Linked DNA regions of Homo sapiens: region 1 is linked to region 2. The links come from fine-mapping of genetic effects on gene expression. A gene starts in region 2. The other region holds a variant in brackets. All regions are shown on one strand. Distances are between the middles of the regions.

Region 1 (4,382 bases), 46 kb after region 2:
CCCGAGGCTCCACTAGACTCTGTCCTGGCTGTCATGACAACAGCGGCAGAGTCCCTGGAGAAGGCTGATGGGCGATGGGAAGGCTCTTACATCTAGGAGTTCTAGATGTATGTTTTTTTGGAGGCATGTCCCATAAACCTCGGGAATTCCTGAGCAAGTGCGTGTGTTGGGCCAAGGGCTGGGGAGCTGGGCCAGCGGTCCAGGTCCCTCTCCTCAACAAAAGGAAATGGATTTGTACTGGACTTCTTGAGGAGATCTAATGTCAATCCCAATAAGCTGTCTTCCTGATGGAGTTTCAAGGGTAATTTAAACTCTGAACTCTTTTAACCTTATTTGCTAACTTTAGACCTAACCTGCATGTAGCATGCTGTCACTGTGTAATAAAACGCTCATTCATTCATTCCACCCACACTTACCAAGGGCTTATTTTGAGCTAAGCACTGTGCCAGGGCTGGGGACACAGGGCTGTACTGTGGTTTCCAACCACAGTTACCCCACACACTGAGAAAGGGAGAGCTCTCTTTGTGAGGTGGTGGTCGGGGCAGATTTCCTGGGATGGGTGGGCCTGGGGCAGGTCAAAGAGAAATTGAAATTGGACAGAAAAAGGAGCTTTTTGGAGGGATGAGGGGGCATCATGAGTAAAGACAGCCTCTGCTCCATGTGCATTCTCTGGCATGGTGGAGATTAGTAGGCCTCAGTCAGGCTGAGAAAAACCTAAAATTAGCCTGACCAGCTGGGCCTGGGCTGTGTGGGACTCTCCCTCACCCCCCTTGCCTTCTCAGGTTTCAGAAAGCCCGAGTATGTGCAGGAACAGCATGCTTTGCCCAGGTCGTGGCAGGCAGATCAGGGCACCTGGGGCCGGGCCGGGCAGAGGGTGCAGCTCCCAGCAGGGATGTTGTCTTTTATACGGGTTCCCCAATTCTGCAGGCCTGGCAAGAGGGAAGGGGGAGACTGCCCTTCCCATCTTCTTCTTGATGCCACTTCCTCTTTGGCTTGTTCCTTCCCCTTCCAGATCTGCAAAGCCTGGCAGTGTGGCACTGCCCAGGCCAGCAAACCAGAGACACAGCACGGCAAGCCCCACCAGGGGAAAGAGGCTTGGATGGGCAACTTCCTGGACACTGGGGAGGAGCAACCAGAAAGCCTCATCCTCACCCACTTTACCCTGTTCCACCTTCCTTTCTGATCTAGCCTGAAATTCCCTCCGTTAGTCACCATCAGCAAAACCGCAGAGCATGTGCTATGATCAAGACTTAGAAGTTGTGTGAGAAGCTAATCTCACCTCCAAAGGTGCTGGAGCTGGTCTGAGTGGGTGAGGAGCAGCGGTGCATGGCACCACGTGCATGGTGGTGGGGAAGGTGGGAAAGAGATGGCCAGCCTGGTGGTGCTGGCGGTGGTGGGGGCTGGGCAGCAGGGTGGCCTTTCCCACTTAGTGTCCGTCCCATCCCTACATCAGATATTCATGACTTGTTTCTTCTCCCTAGATGGCACTGTCTGGTACTCTCTGCCTTCTCATCTTCCTCTAGTCTGGGGTCCCTCCTTCTGGGTCACCAACTCCAAGACAGTTTGCAAATGCCAGTCCCCCTATCTGAAACAGTGCTGGAAGTTTCTGGAGCCAGAAGCATTGCTGAGCATGGGTAGTAGGGGCCCAGGAAGGCTTCCAAAGAGATGGGGCTGA[T/A]GCAGGGCCCCAGAACAAGTTGCCCAGCCTGAGCTCATGGCCACAGTTGCTGTTATTTGCAGTTTTTGGAGTCTTACAATTTGCCCTGCCATGCTAGGCAATGGGTGACCACTGGCCACTCGCAGGCTAGACACCCTCAGATGGGGCCCAGGATTTTAAAATTTGTCAAATTAGATGCCCATTCAAAAACTGGGAGATTTCACGTGAAGTCAGAGTTTCTGACTTCTCTTGAAACATAAGAAGATAGGGCCCCATTTGAGGTGACTAACCAAGCTGGCTTCCTGGGACTCACCCAGTTTAGGCACAGAAAGTACCTTGTCCCAGGAAACCCTGGACAGGCTCCCAGAGCCCTGCAGGGCAACAGTAAACTGGAGTGGACTTGCTCACCCTCTAGGGCTCGTCAGCCCTGTTAGGGGCTAAATTGCACCCTCTTCAAATATGCATGTTGAAGTTCTAACTGCCAGTATCTCAGAATGTGACCTTATTTGGAAAGAGGGTCATTGCAGATGTAATGAGTTAAGATGAGGTCATACTGGAGTAGGGTGGGCCCCTGATCTGACTTCTGTCCTCGAAAAAGGGGAAATGGGAACACAGACACACACAGGGAAGATACCACATGCTGAAGGCAGAGACTGGGTGACGTGTCTCCAAGCCAAGGAATGCCAAAAACGGCCAGCAACCCCCAGAAACTCAGGGAGAGGCCTGGAATGGATCCTTCCCAGTGCTTTTGGAGGGAGCATGGTGCTGCTAACACCTCGATTTCAGGCTTCTGGCTTCCAGACCTGTGAGTCGACACAGTTCCATTGTTCTAAGCCACCCAGTTTGTGTGTACTTCATTACGGCGCCCTAGAAAACCAGTACACGCTCCTACCATGCCCTGCAGTTTTGTCATACATTCACCAGGCCTGCCTGGCCCCAGAGGCATTAGCCTTCTCACTTGCAGAAAATCCCCTGATGAGTTAAGCCAGATGTTGATGAGATCACTCCAGGGGTCCTGAGAGGGAAGGAGAAAGGTGGGTCTGGAGAGCATATGCCCCAGCCCTCAGGGGAGAGAGTGCTGGTGTCCCCAAGCAGCAAGTTCTCCAGTACTCACAGTATCCAGGAGGTGACCAGAGACCTGGGGGTGGGAGACAGGTGGGGCACCTGGGCTGGTACCAGGTGGCCAGCCTTGGCAGAGATCTCCCAAACTGTCGGGGACATTAGGAAACCACACCAGTGAGCTTGGGCAGCAAAGAAGCTGGGGCGACTTTGATGTACAAAAGATTAGGAGCCCTTCTGTGTGTTCAAGGCATCAGAGCCTCCTGGGTTCCGGTGGGTGAAAGGGGAGGTCCCAGTGGAGATGGAAAAGGAAATCTAGGTCAACCTTTCCAAATGACGTTGGCCTTGGAATGCGGTTGATTCAAGGGCAATAAAGAAAGTGTGTTAGGGCTGGGCGTGGTTGCTCACACCTGTAATTCCAGCACTTTGGGAGGCCGAGGTGGGTGGATCACTTGAGGTCAGGAGTTCGAGACCAGCCTGGCCAACATGGTGAAACCCCGTCTCTACCCAAAATGCAAAAATTAGCTGGGCGTAGTGGCGTGTGTCTGTAATCTTAGCTACTGGGCAGGCTGAGGCGGGGGAATTGCTTGAACCCGGGAGTCGGAGGTTGCAGATAGTGCCAAGATAGTGCCACTGCACTCCAGCCTGGGCAACAGAGTGAGACTCCATCTCAAAAAAAAAAAAAGTGTGTTATTTAATCCCCATTATACAAGTAAGGAAACTGAAGCTCGGAGCAGGTAAGGCTCCCAAGCTCACAGTGCTGGAAAGTAGCAGAGCCAAATCTCCCCCAGCCTTGGGTCACTGGAGCGGCTAGTTTCAACAAGGTCACACTGCCGCCGCCCCCACTGCAGTGGGCCGCCATGGGTCTTCTCGGTCAGCACTCACTGCCCGCTGGCTCTGCAAACCTCATTCTCAACCTGCGTTTGAACTGGAAGCTTTCGCTCTGATTCTCTCCCTGTTTCCAGGGTGGGTTTTTTTTTTTTTTTTTTTTTTTGAGATGGAGTCTCATTCTGTCACCCAGGCTGGAGTGCAGTGGTGCAATCTTGGCTCACTGCAACCTCTGCCTCCAGGGTTCAAGCAATTCTCCTTCCTCAGCCTCCCAAGTAGCTGGGATTACAGGCACCCGCTACCATGCAGGCAAATTTTTTTTTGTATTTTTAGTAGAGATGGGGTTTCACCATGTTGGCCAGGCTGGTTTTGAACTCCTGACTTCACGTGATCAGCCCACCTCGGCCTCCCAAAGTGCTAGGATTACAGGCATGAGCCACCGTGCCCGGCCTCCAGGGTGGTTTTAAGAAGGCAAGTCCGTGGGATCTGCCAAGTCATCTCATGCAGAGCGTTCAGGAAGATCATGGTCCCCCTGCCAGTTCCTGCGGTGTTCTTGAGGTCAAATAATATTCTTGTGGTTCGCTCATTCATTCATTCACTCACTCACTCAGCAAGCACTGAGGGAGTACATGAGGGACTGTGGATATGGCAGTGAACTATAGACCTGGTCCCTCCCTCCAGGAGCTTGTAGCACTTTTGTCTGGTGGCAACACGTGGTGTGGAGAAAAGAAAGCTGCTCAGCATGTTAGGGTATGCAGCAGGGTGGAGAGCTGTTGTCATTAACACAGGGAGGTCAGAGGAAGGCTCTGGTAGATGCTAGTGAAAGTCTGAAGGGTAAGGG
Region 2 (4,382 bases):
GGGACACTGCATCGCCGTCTGTGGGGGATGGTATACCAGCCATGACAGTAATCTTTTGACAACATCCCTTTAAAAGTCCATTCACTCCTATAGCAGAGATCTGTGTGCTTTCTTCCTCTTCCACACCTCATGACAACACACATCCTGCCAAGAAAAACTTTATTCAACAAGCAAGAGGATCCAAGTCTTACAGAGAAAGAAACATACTTCAAACAAGAAACTTTCAGAAAAAGTTCTGTCCACACTAGTAGTTATTAAGCCTAACTACTGCATTTCATCTGAGGTAAATAATACAACCTTGTCAGGAAAACATAACATGCTTAGAAGACTTCCATTGTTGAGTAAAAATTTTTTATATGAAGATATTTAATGACAAGAAAAGCTTAATAAGAGATGTGTGTGTGTATACATATGCATACAATATATTTCATTATGCAAAGAAAAAATACACAGAAAAAGACTGGAAAGAAAATACGCAAAAATGTTAGCAGTAACCAAATCTAAGTGGTAAGATTATAGAAAATGTTTTAAAGATTTTCTAGCACTCCCTGAATTTTGGAAGCTTTGACAAAGATCATGTATTATTTTGAAAAGCAGAAAATTTTTAAACTGCAAAAAGGTGGCATTCACTTGTCATACACGCAAACAAGTGCAAGCTTACAAAACTTAGGCCCTAAGCTGCTTTCACAGATCGTATATTCTAGATTTCGAATACAGCTGCTAATTACTTCCTAACAATTTGAACAAACTACAAAATAAAGCTAAACACTTTCACTTCTGGCTCTACTATAAAGATTTCATAATAAAATAAAATATAAAAACAAAGTTTTACCTTTCTGTAAAAGGTCTACGTCTGGCTTTCTACAGCAGAATATTACTAACCATTTTTTAAAAATCATCAATTTATGTTATTTTACACAAATGCCACCTCAAAGAATGTAGGTTTAGCTTAGTAATTCCAAAGTACATACGCCTAATACAAAGTGCAAGAAGTTTTTATGCACTGTAGCGAACGCACAAATAGAAACACCTTCTGTGTGCAGATGAGCTTATTTTATAGACACCTTTCCATTACCTCTTAAGAGCCTGATATCTAATGAAGCTTTCTGCAAAGGTACTTTGCTTAGCCTGGGCATGGATTTACTTGATTATCTGGGAAGCTGTCAAAATCGATCTGAAACTGCATTACATTCAAGGCACAGAATGTCAACTCCTGACTGGGCCTCCTCCTCTCTCCTTTCACAAGAGCGCCTTTAATATCCCCTAGCCTACATTTCCGGGCTCATGAGTCACTGAGAAATGAGCTCTAAGTTTCTCTTAGAATGCTGCTCAAATAGCTCCTCTACAGCATTCAAGGATCTGGCCCCAAAATACCTCTTTAGCCCAATACCCCCCGCCCCCTGCACCATGCCAACAAACGGAATTATCCATGATTTCTAGGCTTTGTCTTCTCGCTTTTGCTACCCCTTCCACACACCTCTTCTGCAATCCTCCTCTCCTAAATCCCATCAGGCCTTCAAGACTCTGCTCAGCATCCCCCGCCCAGGAAGCCTTCCAGGTTTCTGCGAGGCAGAAGTGATCGGTTCGGTTTTTCCGGGTGCCGTTCTAGCACTCCGTCGTTCTTTCACAGGACTTATCACCTCCTTCCCGGTATCGCAGTTATTTGTGTTCTCGTCTTATCTCTCACACCAGAGCCTAAGCTCCTCGGGGGAGGGGACCGGGGCCCGCTTCACCTTTGAATCCCTCCGGTGCGGGCCGACTACGGCGCCTGCACGCAGTCTGCGCTTGGGGTGGTTCCATTGAACTCCAGAACGCTCCGACCGCCCAATTCCTAACCAGAAATCAGTTAGGCATTTTCCTGAATTGGTCACAAAGCTGGTATCTGCCTCCCGACAACAGGAAGTTTACCAGGGGCGGGAGCGAGGCGCTGAAGCCCGGGTGCAGCCGGTGACAGTTGACCCGGCCCGCACTTCCCCGCCCGCCCGACTCCGGCCCGGACCACCACGCGCCGCCAGCCCCGCCAGAGAACCACGGGGGGAGAGGCAGGAGCGCCTGGACTGCAGGCCCCCGGGCGCCCCACGCCGGCGAAGGCAAAGGGAGCGTCTCAGCGAGGGACCGGAGCCGAGCCGGGCGGAGAGGGCAGGCTGGGCCCGGCTGCTCCCGGGGGCTCCGGGGACAAGCTGGGCCGGGGCCGCCGCCACCCAGGAAAATGGAGGCAGCCCCGGGGCCGGTGAGGGCCCAGCGGGGCAGGCGGAAGCCGGGCAGGCGTCCGCACCACGAGCAGGGCCGGCCGGGGGTCACTCACGGGGCTGGGCCGGGCGTTCCCTTCTCTGCCTCCGCGTCGTCGCTGTCCCCGTCCTCGGCCGCCGCCGCTTCGGGCTGCTCGTTCGGTCCCCGCGGAGTGGCTCGGACGCTCGGCCCCTCCGTTGTCTTCCGCCCGCTCCTGCTCCCGGCGACGGGCTCCCGCGGCGGCGGCGGCTGCGCGGGCGGACGGCTGCCCAGGGGCTCCCGCGGCTGCCGCCGCGCTGCTGCGCTCGCTTGGGCTGCGGCTGCTGCTGTGGGGCCCGGCGCCGCCTTAGTCTTCGCCTGTGCCCCCGCCCCGGCGCCTGAAGGCTCTGTGTCTCCCAGGCCGCGCCGCTCCCCGAACCCCTCGCCCCGCTTGCGGCCCGAGCCCGGCTTTGACGTGCGCACTGCGCAGCCGCCGAGGACGCGACGTCGGGCGGTGCCGCAACGCCCCCTTCCGCCTCGGGCGCCCCCGAGCGGCCGGCGGACTCAGGGCGCCGCAAGTAGGCGCGAGGCCCGAGCGGGAGGGGCCGCAGAGAAAAGCAGAAGCCAAGCCCCGCAGTTCCTCTTCCTCCGCCGCAGCTTCCAAGGCGGGGCTCAGCCCTTTCTCCTCCGCCTGAGCGCTCTTACTGCGGGAATCGCACGCCCACTTTCAACGACCACTTCCTCAACTCTTCAAGCTTAATTCTGCGAGAGGCCGGGATCCCACTTTGTGCAGACCGATTCTTACTTTCTTGGAGCAGATCGCTTCATTTTAGCATCCAGGGGGACACAGCATCCAGGGGGACAAGTGCCAGAACGTTCCAGATTAATGGGAATATTCCTATTTAAATCAGCAACCTGGATTTAAGTCCTGCTCCACCATTTGCTATCTATGGGCTGTTTCACGTCCCTGTGCCTGGATTTCCTCACACATTAAAAAAAAAAGTGTGTAATAATATAGTGGTACCAGCCACGGGCTTCTGAGGATGAACGGGACAGTGCATTGCAAAGCTCTGACAACGGAGCCTGGCACATACAAATGCCATATGTGTGTATTTTTGTTTCTTTGTTTTTAATGTGTAACTGAACTACTTTTTAAGCGCCTCCTGTACGTCAGGGATGGGGCAGTGAGCGAAACAGTCCATGCTCCTAGCACAAACAGTTGACAAATAATTGACTAATAAACCTACAGGTATGTATAATACTGGACAATTGGGCCAGGCGCGGTGGCTCACGCCTGTAATCCCAGCACTTTGGGAGGCCGAGGTGGGCGGATCACGAGGTCAGGAGTTCAAGACCAGCCTGGCCAACACCGTGAAACCCCATCTCTACTAAAAATACAAAAAACAATTAGCCGGGCGTGGTGGCGGGCGTCTGTATTCCCAGGTACTTAGGAGGCTGAGGCAGGAGAATCGCTTGAACCCGGGAGGCGGAGGTTACAGTGAGCCGAGATCGCGCCACTGCACTCCAGCCTGGGCGACGCAGCGAGACTATCTCCAAAAAACAAAAACAAAACAAACAAAAAACAACAACAAAAAAACAAATACTGGACAGTTAAAAACACCACTGGGTGAGGAGGGGAGAGAAAGCAGGGTGTTGTTATTTACAGTGTTCATTCAGGGAGCAGCTTCCTGGAGAGAGAGAGCCTGGGAGCTTTCTGTATGGAAAGGCAGAGGGAATAGCAGGACCAAGGCCCTGAGGCGAGAATCTGCTGGCTTGAAAGCGGCCCCAGATAGGGGAAGAGATGAGGAAGAAGTGCGGCCCTACCAACCAAAGTTAGGACTTCCTGTTTTTACTCTCAAGGAGATGGGAAGCAATTTGAAGGGTTGCGAGCAGAGAAAGGACGTGGAATGACATTTCAGGAGGATCCCTGTGGCTGTGGTATGAGGACCAGACTGAAAGCCCTGAGGGTTTCAGCAGGGGGACCAGCGAGAAGCCTGTTGAAATCAGCCAGCCAAAAGATAAGACTGTCCGGCCGGGCGTGGTGGCTCGCACCTGTAACCCCAGCACTTTGGAAGGCCGAAGCAGGGGGATCACCTGAGGTCAGGAGTTCGAGACCAGTCTGACCAGTATGTTGAAACCCCGTCTCTACTACAAATACAAAAATAACCCCAGCT

What was found.
Region 1: its variant is fine-mapped to the expression of CAB39 in whole blood (INTERVAL, PIP above 0.99).

Annotation. Positions count from the first base shown.
Region 1 is chr2:230,665,246-230,669,627 of GRCh38, reverse strand. No RefSeq gene overlaps it. Among named protein-coding and RNA genes, the nearest start is that of LINC01907, 33 kb to the left of the region's middle. RefSeq lists enhancers at 521-660, 861-1,080, 1,461-1,540, 1,561-1,610, 1,651-2,130 and 2 more. The variant T/A (reference allele first, on the strand shown) is at 1,676.
Region 2 is chr2:230,711,154-230,715,535 of GRCh38, reverse strand. It overlaps CAB39 (calcium binding protein 39), which reads right to left and starts at 2,694. Exons shown (of 9, transcript NM_016289.4): 1 at 2,306-2,694. It overlaps LOC124907996 (formin-like protein 16), which reads left to right and starts at 2,210. Exons shown (of 4, transcript XM_047446832.1): 1 at 2,210-3,457. The coding sequence starts at 2,210. The coding sequence ends at 2,968. RefSeq lists a silencer at 1,983-2,922.